Linked DNA regions of Homo sapiens: region 2 is linked to region 1. A link means that fine-mapping ties the variant in region 1 to the expression of a gene that starts in the linked region. Tissue or cell type: blood mononuclear cells. Region 1 holds a variant in brackets; the other region holds the start of a gene. All regions are shown on one strand. Distances are between the middles of the regions.

Region 1 (8,103 bases):
CTATTGTCTTAATAGCCTGACACAGAGTAGATAAATAAATGTTTGTATATTGAAAGAAGGAAAGTGTCCTCTTCAAAGCCCTCCAGACAGTTAGGAGCAGAACTAGGCCTAGAACCCAGTTCTCCTTTCTCCCAGCTCTTACTCCTCAACACCAACATGTTTTTTTTTTTTTTTTTTTTTTTTAAAAAGGACAGGGTCTGGCTCTGTTGCCCAACTGCAACCTCTGCCCTTGATCAGGCTCAAACGACCCTCCCACCTCAGCTTTCCGAGTAGCTGGGACCACATGCATGTACCACCACGCCCACCTAATTTTTAAAAAAACTTTATAGAGACATGTTGCCCAGACTGGTCTCGAACTCCTGACCTCAAGTGATCTGCCTGCCTTGGCCTCCCAAAATGTTGGGATTACAGGTGTGAGCCACTGAGCCACCGTGCCCGGCCACTAACATGCATTTACCTCAGTCATTCCTAACAAACACTTGGAAAAGCAAAGTAGTATCCTGTGATACTCCAGAACCACTATGTTACTATGTAGCAGGATTTCATTCAGTATGCTGAGCATTTGTTGAATGTCTTTTTAACCATATTTAAAACAAGAACCAATGCCTCAGGCCCTGCCCCCAGAAATTCTAATTTAATTACTTTTATTTTATTTTATTTTATTTTTGAGACAGAGTCTCACTCTGTCATTCGGGCTGGAGTACAGTGGTGCAGTCTTGGTTCACTGCAACCTCTGCCTCCCAGGTTTAAGTGATTCTGCCTCAGCCTCCCAAGTAGCTGGGACTACAGGCACATGCCACCACACCTGGATAATTTTTGTATTTTTAGTAGAGGTGGGGTTTCACCATGTTGGCCAGGCTGGTCTCGAACTCCTGACTTCAAGTGATCCCCCTGCCTTTGCCTCCCAAAGTGCTGGGATTGAAGGCATGAACCACCGCGCCTGGCCTCTTATTTATTTATTTATTTATTTAGAGCCAGAGTCTCGCTCTGTTGCCAGGCTGGAGTGCAGTGGCGCGATCTTGGCTCACTGCAACCTCTGCCTCCCGGGTTCGAGCGATTCTCCTGCCTCAGCCTCCCGAGTAGCTGCGACTACAGGCATGTGGCCCCACGCCCAGCTAATTTTTGTATTTTTAGTAGAGACGGGCTTCACCATGTTGGCCAGGATGGTCTCGATCTCTTGACCTCATGATCCGCCTGCCTCGGCCTCCCAAAGTGCTGGGATTATAGGCGTGAGCCACGCTCCCAGCCCTGCATTTCTTTTATGTGTAAAGTGATACTGATATTGATACTTTGAGAACCACCACAGTAAACAAAGTGATCAGAGCAGATAATGAAAACTCACAGCCTTGTATCTTTGTGGGCAAGGGATCAAGTCTTGGTCTTTTTGATGCATTCGCTCATAAGTTCAACTTGGTCTTTTTGATGCATTCACTCATAAGTTCATCGCAGCACTATACACAATAGCAAAGACATGGAATCAAGTCAGGTGCCCTTCAGCGGTGGACTGGATAAAGAAAATGTGGTACATATACACCCTGGAATACTATGCAGCCATAAAGAAAACCCAAAAGTATGCCCTTTGCAGCAACATGGATAAAGCTGGAGGCCATTATCCTAAGCGAATTAATACAGGAACAAAAGTAAATATATGTTCTCACTTAAAAGTGGGAGCTAAGCATTGGGTACGCATGGACACAAAGATGGGAACAATAGACACTGGGGGCTGCAAAAGAGTGAGAGGCAAGGAAAAACTACCTATTGGGAATTATGCTCACTACCTGGGTGACAAGATCAATTGTACCCCATACCTCAGCATCATGCAATATAACCATTAAGAGACCTGCACATGTATTCCCTGAATTTAAAATAAAAGTTGAAAAAAAAAAAGTCTTGGTCTTTTTATCCACAGTGTCTAGCACAGAGTAGGTACTTAGTGTTGATGAATTGACAGTTGGTGACAAACCATAGTGAAAGCTCACAAATTAAACAGCTGCTTAGTCTGCTGCCATTCCTGAGCTCACAGAGTGAGAGGGAAGTACTGCATGCAACAGTATCACAAATGCTCTCCCACTAAGGGAGTTGTCACATGGATGGCAGCTTGGCATAGTGGGCTTTCTATAATCTTACTTAGCAGCTGCCACTGTCTTAAAAGGTGAGGAGAGGCTGGGCACGGTGGCTCATATCTGTAATCCCAGCACTTTGGGAGGCCGAGGCAGGTGGATCACTTGAGGTCAGGTGTTCCAGACCAACCTGGCCAACATGGTGAAACCCCGTCTCTACTAAAAATACAAAACATTAACCAGGCATGGTGACTAGTGCTTGTAGTCCCAGCTACTTAGGAGGCTGAGGCAGGAGAATTGCTTGAACCCAGGAGGTGGAAGCTGCAGTGAGCCAAGATTACACCACTGTACTCCAGCCTGGTGACAGAGTGAGACTCCATATCAAAACCAAAAACAAAATGGTGAGGAGAGGCCAGGGGACTACCACCACTGTCTACAATCCTCTGAAGGGAGATGGAGTACATGTATTCAATGTGGGCTTGAGGGCAGAACTAGGGCAGTGGAAACAACATAAGGAAGACCGTCTAAGGTCAGAGCCACCCAACACTGAATTGGAGCGCCTGAGGACATGATCACCGTCCCTGGAAGTGTGCACGCAGGCCCTGGATGCTTATTTGGCAGAATGCTTTAGTCTTTCACTCTGGAGATTCTGTGGTTTGGGGATCATCTTCTTCAAGTAGGTATCTAAGTCTGAAGTCCACCTGGAATTCCAGACATACTCTCTGACACATAAGAGTTCCCTGTATATACAAGTGGGGAGGAAAGGCTAAGGGGCATCATGAGGATCTGTGCCTTACCATAAGAACCCAAATGCTGAGAAGTTTCCCTAAGCCTCTGTTTCTGCCTCCCACCCCCTCCCTGGGTGTCCTCCCCAGTGCCTGGGATAAGTGCTTAACAAAGTTTACTGGCATTAATGCTGTTGGTGGGCAGGAGGTGCCCAGTTTGCATTGGAAAAGAGAGAAACAGCAGTAGCAAAAAGATAGCAGTGAGGGACAGGAGAGACCCACTTAGCTGGAGGGGGTGAGGGTCCATGCACCAAATAATGGGAGATAGGAGTATGCAAAGATAAAGCGATAAACCTTTCATAACAGGTAAAGGAAGGTGAATTTTATCCAGTGTCTGTTTAGCTGAGTCCAGACTAGGAAGCTGGGCTGCATGAGTCAGTTTGACAAGGGCTTTTTAGATTTAGGAGGCTGCTCCGTTTTCCTCCTCCTCCTCTTCACTGTAAGCTGTCCCTTGAGCTGTATTCTGAAACCCTGAATGGTTTTTCCATCTCACTAGGGACAGTTGGCAAACCCTCTCTGGCTTGGCCAGGGTTGGGGCTGGGCACTAGACGAGCCGGGAGAGGAGGTGGCTCCCAGCAATAAGCAACCCACAGAATTGTGTCTGTCATTTAAGAAAAGTTTCTGGGTTTTCGGCTAATTGCAAAAATACATAATGGATGCTTTTCGCATCTGCTAGTTATTCTGGAACAGGCCTGCATCCAAGAGCAAACTTTAAACAAACAATAAGATTATGGAGCTTAACTATTTCAATGTGTAACAGAAAGCCAAGCCCCATACACTTAAATTACCACACATGCACTCAGACACAAGCACACAAGAGATCACATCTGCACAAACATACACACATACAGATGCATGTTTTGGCATTAGTGCATGCAAATGCATACTTACATGCTAGCACCTAGTACATACATGCATGCACAACTTGCACATGTGCGCAGTCACCAGCACCAATACACATTCTCAGACACACAAATGAACGTGCATACACTCATACACAAGTATACACCAACGCATTTGGGCAACAAGACACACAGCCTCAGGCACAGATGCATTTACACAAATCATTCTTACTGCAATGAGAGATAGTCCGGGGTAGGTGTGGGTGTCCTCCCAGTGCAGAGTTAAGTGAAGCAGTCCATCAGCTGGGCACTGGCTGTCCGGGTGTTACCAGGTGTAGTTATCAGTATGGCCACCAAGAGGCGCCCAGGATCCATCCTGCATCCACCTTTCATGGCTTCTGCCAGCTGGTCAATTGTTTCTGTACCCACAAGCCTGCATCTCCCTGTTCTGGATCCCTGCACAGAACTAGGAGACTCCTTGATCCCAGCCCCAACCTTCCAGGATCCACTGTGCTCATTCTCATCCTTTCCCTGTCCCACACCACCAAAACAACCACAAGTCCCATCCCTCCTCCCTCCTAGCAGAACGCATGCTTCAGCACTCCCTGCTTGTCCTGTGGCTGCTCCATGGAGAACTGGATCTGTCAGGTCTTGATCATGATGTGACTTCTACCTGGAACTTTTTCCACAGGAGAAGCTGTCAAAATCTCACCTATTTTTCAGTCTATGTCAGAATCTCCCAGTGCAAGACTGCCAGAGTCAAGAATACATGTTCAAGTAATTCAGTGAATGAATTAATGCCTCACTCTAATACCTGACTCTGCCTTCCCCATTAACCCCAGCTGGAGAGGTCTCTCACCTTCTAGCACCTGCCTCCTGGCTTATGTGTGTGTGTGTGTGTGTATATATATTTCAATAAAACAAGTGCCAGGCTGGGTGCAGTGGCTCACGCCTGTAATCCCAGTTACTTGGGAGGCTGAGGAAGGAGAATCTCTTGAACCTGGGAGGTGGAGGTTGCAGTGAGCTGAGATCGCACCACTGCACTCCAGCCTGGGCAACAGAGAGAGACTATCTGAAAAAAAAAAAAAAATTCCCCCCACCACGCCGCCCCCCCCACAAAATGCCAGCTTGAAAACACAAGCTAGAGGCAGACTCAAGATGTCATGAAGTCAACCCCTTCCAGCATCCCTGACAGGTAGCTACCCTAGCAACAGATAACTCACCCCTCCCTGAGCAGCCCTCTTCACTGGATACTTCAGACTTC[C/T]AGAAAGTTCCACTGTGTTCTTCCACATTCTCAGAGCTCTTTCATCATGACAGGGGCTGAAGCAACGTCTGATAATGCAGTAGGAGAATAAGTGCAAAGTGCAGGGGAGGGTGTGCAAACTTTCCAGAGAAGTGGGGCAGGGAATTGGGATCAATTACAGAGGGAGTATGAGTATAAAAACTATCATTACAGCTGCTGTTTAGTGAATGTTTACTGTGCTCATGACTGCAAATCCTTATAGAGGGCAAGCTCGAATCCAGGTCTGCCTGTCTGCAGTCTAGTCTAAAACACCTCTTGGAACATAAACAAAATAAGAGTTTTGGGAGCAGATGGGTAGGGGGACAGCCAGGTGTATTAATTTTCTTTTGCTACATAATAAATCACCATTAACTTAGTGACTTAAAACAACATCCATCCCTGGGTGCGGTGGCTCACGCCTGTTATCCCAGCACGTTGGGAGGCTGAGGCAGGTGAATCACAAGGTCAGGAGAGTGAGACCATCCTGGCTAACATGGTGAAATCCCGTCTCTGCTAAAAATACAAAAAAATTAGCTGGGCACGGTGGCACGTGTCTGTAGTCCCAGCTACTTGGGAGGCTGAGGGAGGAGAATCGCTTGAACCAAGGAGGTGGAGGTTGCAGTGAGCCGAGGTCGTGGCACTGCACTCCAGCCTGGGCGACAGAGCAAGACTGTCTCAAAACAAACAAACAAACAAAAAAAACCACCATCCATTTTATTACCTCACAGTTCTGTAGGTCAGAAGTCTGTGCAGGCTTGACTGGGTTTTCTGCCCACAGTATCACAAGTCTGAAATCAAGGCTTCAGCTGGGCCTGGCTCTCATTCAGAGGCCCTGGGAAAGAATCACTTCCAAGCTCATTCACATTGTTGGCAGAATCCATTTCCTAGCAAGTCCTCATTACCATGGTCACTGCTGGCCATGGGGTGGCCTTGGTACTAGAGGCTGCTCTAGGGTCCCTTCCACGTGCACTCTCCACTTTCAAGATAGAGCCCTCCTCATGCTTTGAACTACTGACTTCTTTTCTGTCACCAGCTGGACAAAATTCTGCTTTTAAAGGGCTCACGTGATTATCTTAGGCCTACCTGGTTAATCTCCCTATCTTAAGTCAACTGGTTAGTAACCTTAATTGCTTCTGCAAAATTCTTGCCATGTAATGTAACACATTCCACAGAAGAGCTAATTATCCAAGGGTGAAGGTCATTGGGGCAGGCAGAGTTCTATGATGTCCCCGGTGACCCTCACCCTTGTACAGTGCCCTCCCCTTTGAGTGTGTGTTGAACCTGTAAGGTTATGTTATGCTATGTGGCAAAAGGTAGATTAACTGGGTGGGCCCAATCAAATCCCATGGGTTCATTAAAAGTGAGTTTTCTCTGGCTGGTAAGAGAGAAGGAAGTGAGAATCAAGGCATGAGAAGTACTTGACCTGCCGTTACTGGCTTTGAAGGTAGTGGGGGCATGTGCAAGGAAGGGAGAATGGCTTCTAGGAGCTCCCCTCACCCCTGGCCGACAGCAAGGAAATGAGGACCTCGGTTCCACAGCTGGAAGGAACATTCTGCCAACAGTGTGAATGAGGCTGAAAGAACTTCTAGATGACAGCCCAGCCCTGCTGACATCTTTTTTTTTTTTTTTTAGACGGAGTCTCGCTCTGTCACCCAGGCTGGAGTGCACTGGCACGATCTCGGCTCACTGCAACCTCCCCCTCCCGGGTTCAGGCGATTCTCCTGCCTCAGCCTCCCGAGTAGCTGGGATTACAGGTGCACGCCACCATGCTTGCCTCATTTTTGTACTTTTAGTAGAGACAGGGTTTCACCATGTTGGCCAGGCTGGTCTTGAACTCCTGACCTCAAGTGATCCGCCAGCCTCGGCCTCCCAAAGTCCTGGGATTACAGATGTGAGCCACTGCGCCCAGCCCCCACTGACATCTTGATTCAGACGTTGTAATACTGTGAGCAGAGATCCCAGTCAGTTGCACTGCCCAGATATATGAACCAGAGGACTGTGAGGTAATAAACGGGATTGCTTTAAGCTGCTCTTTGTGGTAATTTGTTATGCAGCAATAGAAAACTAATATGCCGGGCAAACAGCACATCATTTGCCTGACCTAGGCCATCTCTTATTATCTACCTACATCCTCCTTTTTTCCTCCTCCTCCTATTCCTCTATTTAAAAAATAGTTTCATCTGAATATGACTCGTCCACAAAAAGGCTGATTCTGACACATGCTACAACACAGATGAACCTTGAAGACATTATGCTACATAAAATAAGCTAAGCCAGTCACAAAAATACAAATACTGTATGATTCCAAATATATGAGTAATCAGATTCATAGAGACAGAAAGCAGAATGGTGGTTGCCAGGGGCTGGGAGGATTGGGGAATGGGAGTATTGTTTAATGGGTCTGGAGTTTCAGTTTGGGAAGATGAAAAAGGTTCTGGAGATGAATGGTGGTAACGCTTGCATAACAACATGAAGGTACTTAATGCCATTGAATTGTACAATTAAAAATGGTTAAATGGGCTGGGTGTGGTGGCTCACGCCTGTAATACCAACACTTTGGGAGGCCAAGGTGGGTGGATCACTTGGTGTCAGGAGTTCAAGACCAACCTGGTCAACATGGTGAAACCCCGTCTCTACTAAAAATACAAAAATTATCCAGGTGTGGTGGCACATGCTTGTAATCCCAGCTACTTGGGAGGGTGAGGCAGGAGGATCACTTGAACCTGGGAGGGTGAGATTGTAGGGAGCTGAAATGGTGCCATTGCACTCCAGCCTGGGCAACAGAGCAAGACTTCGTCTCGGAAAAAAAAAAGTTAAATGGTGAATTTTGTGTTACGTTTATTTTAGCACAATAAAAACAATTTTTAAAATAGTCTCATCAAAGTAATGCATATCGTGGTTAAAAAGCAACAGCCTCCATCTCCCTGACACCTTCTATGACGTAAAAGACTTCAGACTCAGCCGTTTCTTCTAAGACTTGCCTCTATATATTTATTATGCTTCTCTTGCCTTTTTTTTCTTAATGTAGGCAGAATAAATGGTAAAGATTTCAAACAGTGAAAATTATGTCTTCATCCAACCCCCATTATCTCTGTCCACAAGCCCCCCTCAAAAAAGCAATGCCAGGTTTCCTG
Region 2 (8,083 bases), 54 kb before region 1:
CCAGAAAGTTTTTTTCTCTGTGAAAAAAAAATCACCACATATTGCTTTAAGTAGGTTTACTAGGAAGTTTCAGACCCAAACCCCTGTGTGGAATCCTTAGTTCTGGTGTTCTATCATGGAAACAACAAAGACTGTCTTTTTGTCTCTAGCCCAAGGCCTTCACTAAAAGTATGCCAATAGCTTCCTAGCCCTTTTTCTCACAGACACCATATCCTTAAGATCTTTTAACTCTAATTGTGTGAACAAAGGAAAAGAAGACACATTTGTTTTGATATGGCCTTTTTCATACTCCTGCTACCCATTCCCAATATGACCAATTGTCCTTGTTCTTGGCTGCCCATGTCCTAGCTCCTCCTCCCCAGAAGCTGAAGGGTTTGGAGCCTTCTTTTTTTTGAGACAGAGTCTTGCTCTGTCGCCAGGCTGGAGTGCAGTGGTGCGATCTCAGCTCACTGCAACCTCCACCTCCTGGGTTCAAGCAATTCTCCTGCCTCAGCCTCCCAAGTAGCTGGGATTACAGGCATGCACCACCACATCCAGCTAATTTTGTATTTTTAGTAGAACTGGGGTTTCACCGTGTTAGCCAAGCTGGTTTCCAACCTCAGGTGATCTGCCCACCTTGGCCTCGCAAAGTGCTGGGATTACATGCATGAGCCGCTGCGCCCGGCCGTGTTTTTTTATGTGAAAATTCACATATCTAAACGTGGGTCCCTGTTTTTGTATAGCCTTCAAGCTCAAAATAATGTTCACATTTTAAAATGGATTTTAAAAATAAAAATAAATAATATTTTGGGACACATGCAAATTATATAAATTCAAATTTCAGTATCCATAGAAAAATGTTTTGTTTTTGTTTTGAGACAGGGTCTGGCTCTGTTGCCCAGGTTAGAATGTAGTAGCACGATCTTGGCTCACTGGAGTTTGCACCTCCTAGGCTCAAGGGCTGCTCCCACCTCAGCCTCCACCTCCTGGGCTCAAGGGATCCTCCCACCTCAGCCTCCCATCTCAGCCTTCCGAGCATCTGGGACTACAGGTGCACACCACCACCTGTAGTGTAGTGTAGGCCTGGCTGGGCGCGGTGGCTCATGCCTGCAATCCCAGCACTTTGGGAGGCCAAGGCAGGAGGATCACTTGAGCCCAGGAGTTCAAGACCAGCCTGGACAACATGGTGAAACCCCCTCTCTACTAAAAATACAAAAATTAACCAGGGGTGGTGGCAGGTGCCTGTAATCCCAGCTACTTGGGAGGCTGAGGCAGAAGAATCGCTTGAACCTGGGAGGTGGAGGTTGCAGTGAGCCAAGATGGCACCACTGCATTCCAGCGTGGGTGACAGAGTGAGACTCTATCCCCCCCAAAAAAATTTTTTTCCAGCTGTGATAATAAAAAATATCCCATTCTCCTTTCTATGGTGGGAAGGAAAAGGTAGAAGTTGTGGAGAGGAAAGAGGTAGAAATTAAAGGGAGAATGGAAAAGAAGGGCAAACAAAGGCAAGTAGGTGAGGAGAAGGACAGGAAAAGAGACAGGGAGAAGGGAGGGACTTATAAATGGGAAAAGAAGGGTAGGAAGGATGGGAATAAGTAAAAACAACAACAACAAAAAGAAAGCAAGGAGAGAGAGTAGAGATGGGGAAGAGCCAGAAAATGCTGAGTGAGCTAAGAAAGGACCACCAAAAGAAAAAGGAGAATGGGGGTGGTCAGACAGAGGGCTATACCACTATCTTCCTCTCCTGTTTGCTTTCGTTTACTAACGTCCTGGTCACTCTGCCCTAAACAGCTTAGTTCCTTTCCCATAGTCTTTGTTCACTCCAGCACTATCTGACTTGAACTTGTACCTGTACGACAAATCTAACACCCTGGACTCTTAGTTCTAAAAACAGGACATGCATTCTGCCTCAGTCTTCCATTCCCATGGTCTCACCCTGGACCTTGGCATCATCAGAAACTCAGAAGCTGGGACATTTCAATTCCAAATATCCCACTCAGACCAGCAGCATCCATACTGCCAGAGCACTTGCTCATATACCCCACTGCAATCTTTCTTGGGCCAATGCTCTAAGACATTGGTCCCTTTCCCCACCACCCTCCAACCCCTCCACTACCAGGCTTCATGTGCCATTATTTGCTTTCCTGTATGGTTTTGATTCTACACACAGCATCATGAACATTCTCTTCCAAACACTCTCATCACTTGGCCCCCTCTCTCTGTTGTACTTGCCAGGCAAAATCCCAACCCTCAGTAAATGCAACAAGCTGCCTTCTCTGCCTGTGCCTGAATGGCCAAACATCTTCAATTATTTTGAATCCGTTACCTCAAATATCAAATGAGCTCTTAACGTTGGCCAGAAGGCCTTTTAAAGGCCTGTATGCACCAAGGCTCAGTTCTTGAACGTCTCCTTTTCTTCTCCCTTAAGATTCTTCCCTAATGAAGGGGGCAGGCGAACGGAGTTAAAGGGCTTCCATTGCTGTTAGAATACAGCCCAAATTCCTTTCCATAATCAAAAGTCCTGATCTGCCACCGACCTCACTTTCTCAACTTTTCACCTTCCATTCTCCCCTCATTTGACTCAGCCCTGGTCTCACTGTCACTGGCCTTTTTTCCTTTTTTTTTTTTGAAGCAGTCTCATTGTCACCTAGGCAGGAGTGCAGTGGTGCTATTACGGCTCCTAGGCTCAAGTGAACATCCCAGTAGCTGGGATCACAGGCACGGGTCACGGTGCCCGGCTTTTAAATTTTTGGTCGAGACGGGGTCTCGTCATGTTGTCCAGGCTGGTCTCGAACTCCTGGGCTCAAGCCATCCTCCTGCCTCAGCCTCCCAAAATGCTGGGATTACAGGCGTGAGCCACCGCGCCCAGCCAGGCCTTCCTTCAATTGCTTTAACATGCCAAACCAACTTAGATTTTTTGCACATGCTTTTCTCTGTGGGACACTCTATCCTGGTGTTTGCCTGGTTTCGCTCTTTTCTATCCTTTTGTCTTGGCTTGAATGTCACCTCTTCTGAAGCCTTCTCTGGCGACCCTGGCCATCTTATGTCCTACTTGTTATTTCTTCAAAATCGTACTGCCTTTTGTATGTACTGGTGTTTACTCATTCACACTGGCTACCTCCCCATACCTCACTGGCTGGAATGGAAACTCATTGCGAGCAGAGACAATAGGTTTTGCTCTCCCGCGGATCACGTCCCAGCCTCCAGCTCAGCACCAGACACTTGAGGGCGCAGGATAAAATATCTGCAGTCAGAAAGCACTAATAACCACCCAAGGGTTGGAGGAAAGCTGGCGCGGACCGCACGAGTGTCGCCGAGACGCCGCCGCCGTGCGAAGCTCCTCCCCTTCCGACAGGGCCGCGGACGCCCGGGCAGCCACGGCGGCGGGGCCGCGGCGGGCGCCGGCTCAGCCCGCCCCTTTCTCCCGCCGCCTCCCCGCCCCGCCCCGCGCCGCGCCGGCCGCTGTCAGCTCCCTCAGCGTCCGGCCGAGGCGCGGTGTATGCTGAGCCGCTGCCGCAGCGGGCTGCTCCACGTCCTGGGCCTTAGCTTCCTGCTGCAGACCCGCCGGCCGATTCTCCTCTGCTCTCCACGTCTCATGAAGCCGCTGGTCGTGTTCGTCCTCGGCGGCCCCGGCGCCGGCAAGGGGACCCAGTGCGCCCGCATCGTCGAGGTGAGGCCCGGGCAGCAGGCGGGCTCCTTGGGGCTTGACGGGATGCGGGCCGGCCTGTCCCGCCGCCCCTAGTCCGCGCCCCGCGGAGTCGCCGAGCCGCAGACTACGAGTCCCGGCGGCCACCGCGCCGCCCGCGTGGCAGTGGCCGAGGGCCGCCGGCGCGCGGCGTGCCGGGACTTGTAGTCCGCGCCCGCCCGCCTTGGGGGCCACCGCTTGAGGTCGCTTTGTTCCTGCGCCCCTTCTTTTCTTACATTTTGGGGACCAGATTCGTCTCTAGAGTGGGCTGGGAGAGGGATCCCGGAGGCCAACCTTTGGGGGTCCCCCAGCGCGCAGAGGTTAGCGTGTCGCTGATCGTGTGGCAGGTGAAGGCAGCAGGAGCGCGGATTTGGGTTAGAGGCCGTGTGCGCCCACAGTTGTCTGAAGGAGAGACCTATTTTTCTTCTCCGCGCCTTCCCTCTGGTTCCCTAAACTCCGCACTGTCACCGAACGTGTCTTTACTCTAGAAAGGAGGCCCGTGGGGCGGGGTGTTATTTTAGGCGTGCTGTGGGCTGCCGCTGGCACTCTCGAGCCCCGTCCCCGCAAGCTTTAGGGCGGAGCCAGCCCTGAGGCTCGGCCCGGGTCGGGGATGGGGAAAGCCGGGAGTGCTGTTCTGAGATCAAGCTTCAACCTTTGGCCCTGCTGCCAACTCACGCTCGGCCCTCGGTCACTTCCTGTCTCCCAGCCTCAGTTAGCCCTTGTAATACAGTAAAAAGAGTCTCTGAACCCAGATTTTCTCAGGATATAAAACACCTCCCAAATGTAAAATGCTGTTACTTTTTTTTCTTTTGCTTTGAGACAGGTTACCAGTTCAATTCTTTTAACAATTTTTGAGCTAGATGTATGGTTGGTTAGCTGCATTGACACTGTGGGAAAAAAAGGCTTCATGGACAATCTGGGGAATGCTTGGGAAAGAAGGAAAACAGGATATCTAGAAACAGAAGAGGCGACCATTGGTGGCCTCTAGTGAAATCACTCTGAAACCCTGTAACCAACAAAAGTTTTTTTGACCTAGAACTTATAATTTCCTCCTCTTCTAGGATATGGCCAATATTAGCATGGGGCTTTTGCTTCTCTCCTTATATGTTCATAACAATCAACTCCTGTCCTGTATTTTATTCCCTAAATAGCATCCAGAGAAAGTTAGATGAGTTCAACAAGTCATTATGTGTTGGACAGATGTATTTATAAATATTGATCATTTTGCCAGGCGCTGTGGCTCACTCCTGTAATCCCAGCACTTTGGGAGGCCGAGGCTGGCGGATCACGAGGTCAGGAGTTCGAGACCAGCCTGGCTAACATGGCGAAACGTTGTCTTTACTAAAAATACAAAAATTAGCCTGGCGTGGTGGCGGGCGCCTGTAATCCCAGCTACTCCGAAGGCTGAGGCAGGAGAATCGCTTGAAACCGGAAGGCGGAGGTTGCGGTGAGCCCATATCGCGCCACTGCACACTAGCCTGGGCGAAAGAGTGAAACTCCGTCTCAAAAAAAAAAAAAAAAAAAAAATCATTTTAGGTGTCAAAGTGGAACTAGTCCAACTAAAAAAATACATAACATTTACATCCTCTTAAAAAAATTTTTTTTTGTTGGTTCTCTTTCTTTTGTTGTTTTTTTGTTTTTGTTTTTGTTTTTGTGACAGTCTCACTCCGTCACCAGGCTGGAGTGCGGTGGTGCGATCTCAGCACACTGCAACCTCCGCCTCCCAGGTTCAAGCGATTTTCCTGCCTCAGCCTCTGCATAGCTGGGATTACAGGCGTGCGCCACCACGCCTGGCTAATTTTTGTATTTTTGGTAGAGACAGGGTTTCACCATGTTGGCCAGGCTGATCTCGAACTCTTGACCTCGTGATCTGCCCGCCTCAGCCTCCCAAAGTGCTGGGATTATAGGCATGAGCCACCGTGCCTGGCCTTGTCACTTGTCTTTTAAAAAGTAAAGAGACTGGCTGCTGCACTCCAGCCTGGGCGACAGAGCGAGACTCCGTCTCAGAAATAAATAAATAAATAAATAAATGGCAAGTGAAAAGTGGGAGTGATTTCAAATTTTTGTTTAGTATATGTGATCTTTCTTAAATAGCATGATGGGGGAAGGGGCAAAGACTTTAGAGTCAAAGAGATATAGGTTCAAACCCTGACTCTGCCATTTACTGTTTCTCTAGGCCCAGAGATGTTGTTGCCTTTAGTTCCCTGTGAAAAGGGAAAACATAGAAATGGCTGTTTTGTATGGTATTTGTGAATATTAAATGAGGTAAAATATCTGGCACACAGAGACAGATGCAGATAGTTTTTTTCTCCACTTTAAACTTCTGATCTTATTACCTCTACTTTAAACTTCCTGATCTTATTATATTGGTTATTTTTATTGGTGGGTTTTGTTGTTGTTGTTTGTTTTGAGATCGAGTCTCTCTGTGTCACCCAGGCTGGAGTGCTGTGGTACCATCTTGGCCCACTCCAACCTCTGCCTCCTGGGCTCAAGCCATCCTCTCACCTCAGTCTCCCAAGTAGCTGGGATGACAGGTGTGCACTGCCACTCTCTGCTAACTTTTTTTCAGGTTTTTGTAGAAACCAGGGCTCACTATATTGCCCAGGCTGGTCTCGAACTCCCAGACTCAAGGGATCTTACTGCCTTGGCTTCTCAAAGTGTTGGCATTACAGGCATGAGCCGCCATGCCTGGCCTGGTTATTTTTATTGCAAAATAGTATTTTTCTTTTAAATTACTTTATGCGTGTTATATTTGAATGCATTTAAATACAGTATGCTGTTTCTGAATCATAATATGCCTTTAAAATATCTGTACCTAAATTAATAATACCCATACTACTACACTGGTTAAAAAATAATCTACACATTCAGGGCTGGGCGCAGTAGCTCACGCCTGTAATCCCAGCAGTTTGGGAGGCCCAGGCGGGTGGATCACGAGGTCAGGAGATTGAGACCATCCTGGCTAACAAGGTGAAACCCCATCTCTACTAAAAATACAAAAATTAGCCGGGCGTGGTGGCAGGCGCCTGTAGTCCCAGCTACTTGGGAGGCTGAGGCAGGAGAATGGCATGAACCGGGGAGGCGGAGCTTGCAGTGAGCCAAGATCACGCCACTGCAGTGCAGCCTGGGTGACATAGCGAGATTCCATCTCAAAAAAATAAAATAAATAAATAAATAAATACATAAATGAAATAATCTACACATTCTGCAATTATTCTTTATTCTGTTCAGTAATGGCAAATAATATTTTAAACTTGTTAATTATCAGTTACAAGATTCCATGATGAGATATGTTCTGTAATGTATTATATTATTAAGATTTCAACAATTATTTGACCTTAAACTGTTATCTTCTTTAATGAAAAGTATTCTCTTGAGTCTAGTTGCCATAAACTTTATTAAGCTGTCAATCAACTAATTCCAAATAGTTTATAATTTAGCAATTGCTATTCCCTAGCTGGCTAGACAGACACTGGAATATCTATTTTTTTTTTTTTTTTGAGACGAAGTGTCACGCTGTCGGCCAGGCTGGTGTGCAGTGGGGCAATCTTGGCTCGCTGCAGCCTCCATCTTCTGGATTCAAGCGATTCTCTGCCTCAGCCTCCCGAGTAGCTTGGACTACAGGTGCGCGCCACCATGCCCGGCTAATTTTTGTATTTTTAGTAGAGACGGGGTTTCACTATGTTGGCCAGGCTGGTCTCGAACTCCTGACCTCGTGATCCACCCACCTTGGCCTCCCAAAGTGCTGGGATTACAGGTGTGAGCCACTGTGCCCGGCCTGGAATATCTATTGTTAGTGAAGTCAGCGGTATGTTGTTTTTTTCCTTTGTGAATCTCTTTATTTTGACTCAATATTTTTTTATACAGGCAATTATAAACTAAATTCCAAAATAATGTAAGTTTTGGAGGTTTTTTTCCTGTAGGAAAAAAATTACATAAATCCACGGTAAATTCTCCAATTAATCTGGCTGAAGCTAATGCAGCTCACAGGGCACCTGAAATTGTTACTTTAGTATGTTGATTTCCAACTCAGGCTGCCAGAAGTACATATTTGAGTCCTAGCTACAGAATCTTCAGTTGACAGGAAGAGAAGAAAAAGAGAAAACCAAAAACCCTTAGGGATATCTTGCTCTCTAAGGCACTGAAATTAGTGAAGTGGGTATTGTTAGAGGGAAGCTGGTATTTTTTCTCTGGAGGTGAATTCTGCTCTGCAAATTGCTCCTGGAGACCTAGAGAAGGTAAAGGCAAATCTGATACAGTGTCTTCTGAGAGTGTTCTGTACTGGGAAGGAAAGATTGGAGGGAGGTTTTGGGATTGATTTTGCACATTTATTTGTACTGATGTTTTTCAGTTTTGTTTGCTTTTCTCCTTCCTTCCTTCCTTCCCTCCCTCCCTCCCTCTCTCCTTCCCTCCCTCCCT

What was found. PIP is the estimated chance that this variant, and not a neighbour inherited with it, causes the effect.
Region 2: it holds the start of CMPK1, and the variant in region 1 is fine-mapped to the expression of CMPK1 in blood mononuclear cells (TOPMed, PIP 0.99).

Annotation. Positions count from the first base shown.
Region 1 is chr1:47,384,906-47,393,008 of GRCh38, forward strand. It overlaps LINC01389 (long intergenic non-protein coding RNA 1389), which reads right to left. Exons shown (of 5, transcript NR_126355.1): 4 at 1,343-1,451. Among named protein-coding and RNA genes, the nearest start is that of FOXE3, 27 kb to the right of the region's middle. RefSeq lists a silencer at 3,052-3,346. The variant C/T (reference allele first, on the strand shown) is at 4,952.
Region 2 is chr1:47,330,468-47,338,550 of GRCh38, forward strand. CMPK1 (cytidine/uridine monophosphate kinase 1) reads left to right here and starts at 3,323. Exons shown (of 6, transcript NM_016308.3): 1 at 3,323-3,649. The coding sequence starts at 3,479. RefSeq lists a silencer at 3,236-3,875 and enhancers at 3,262-4,065, 4,066-4,869, 4,386-4,445.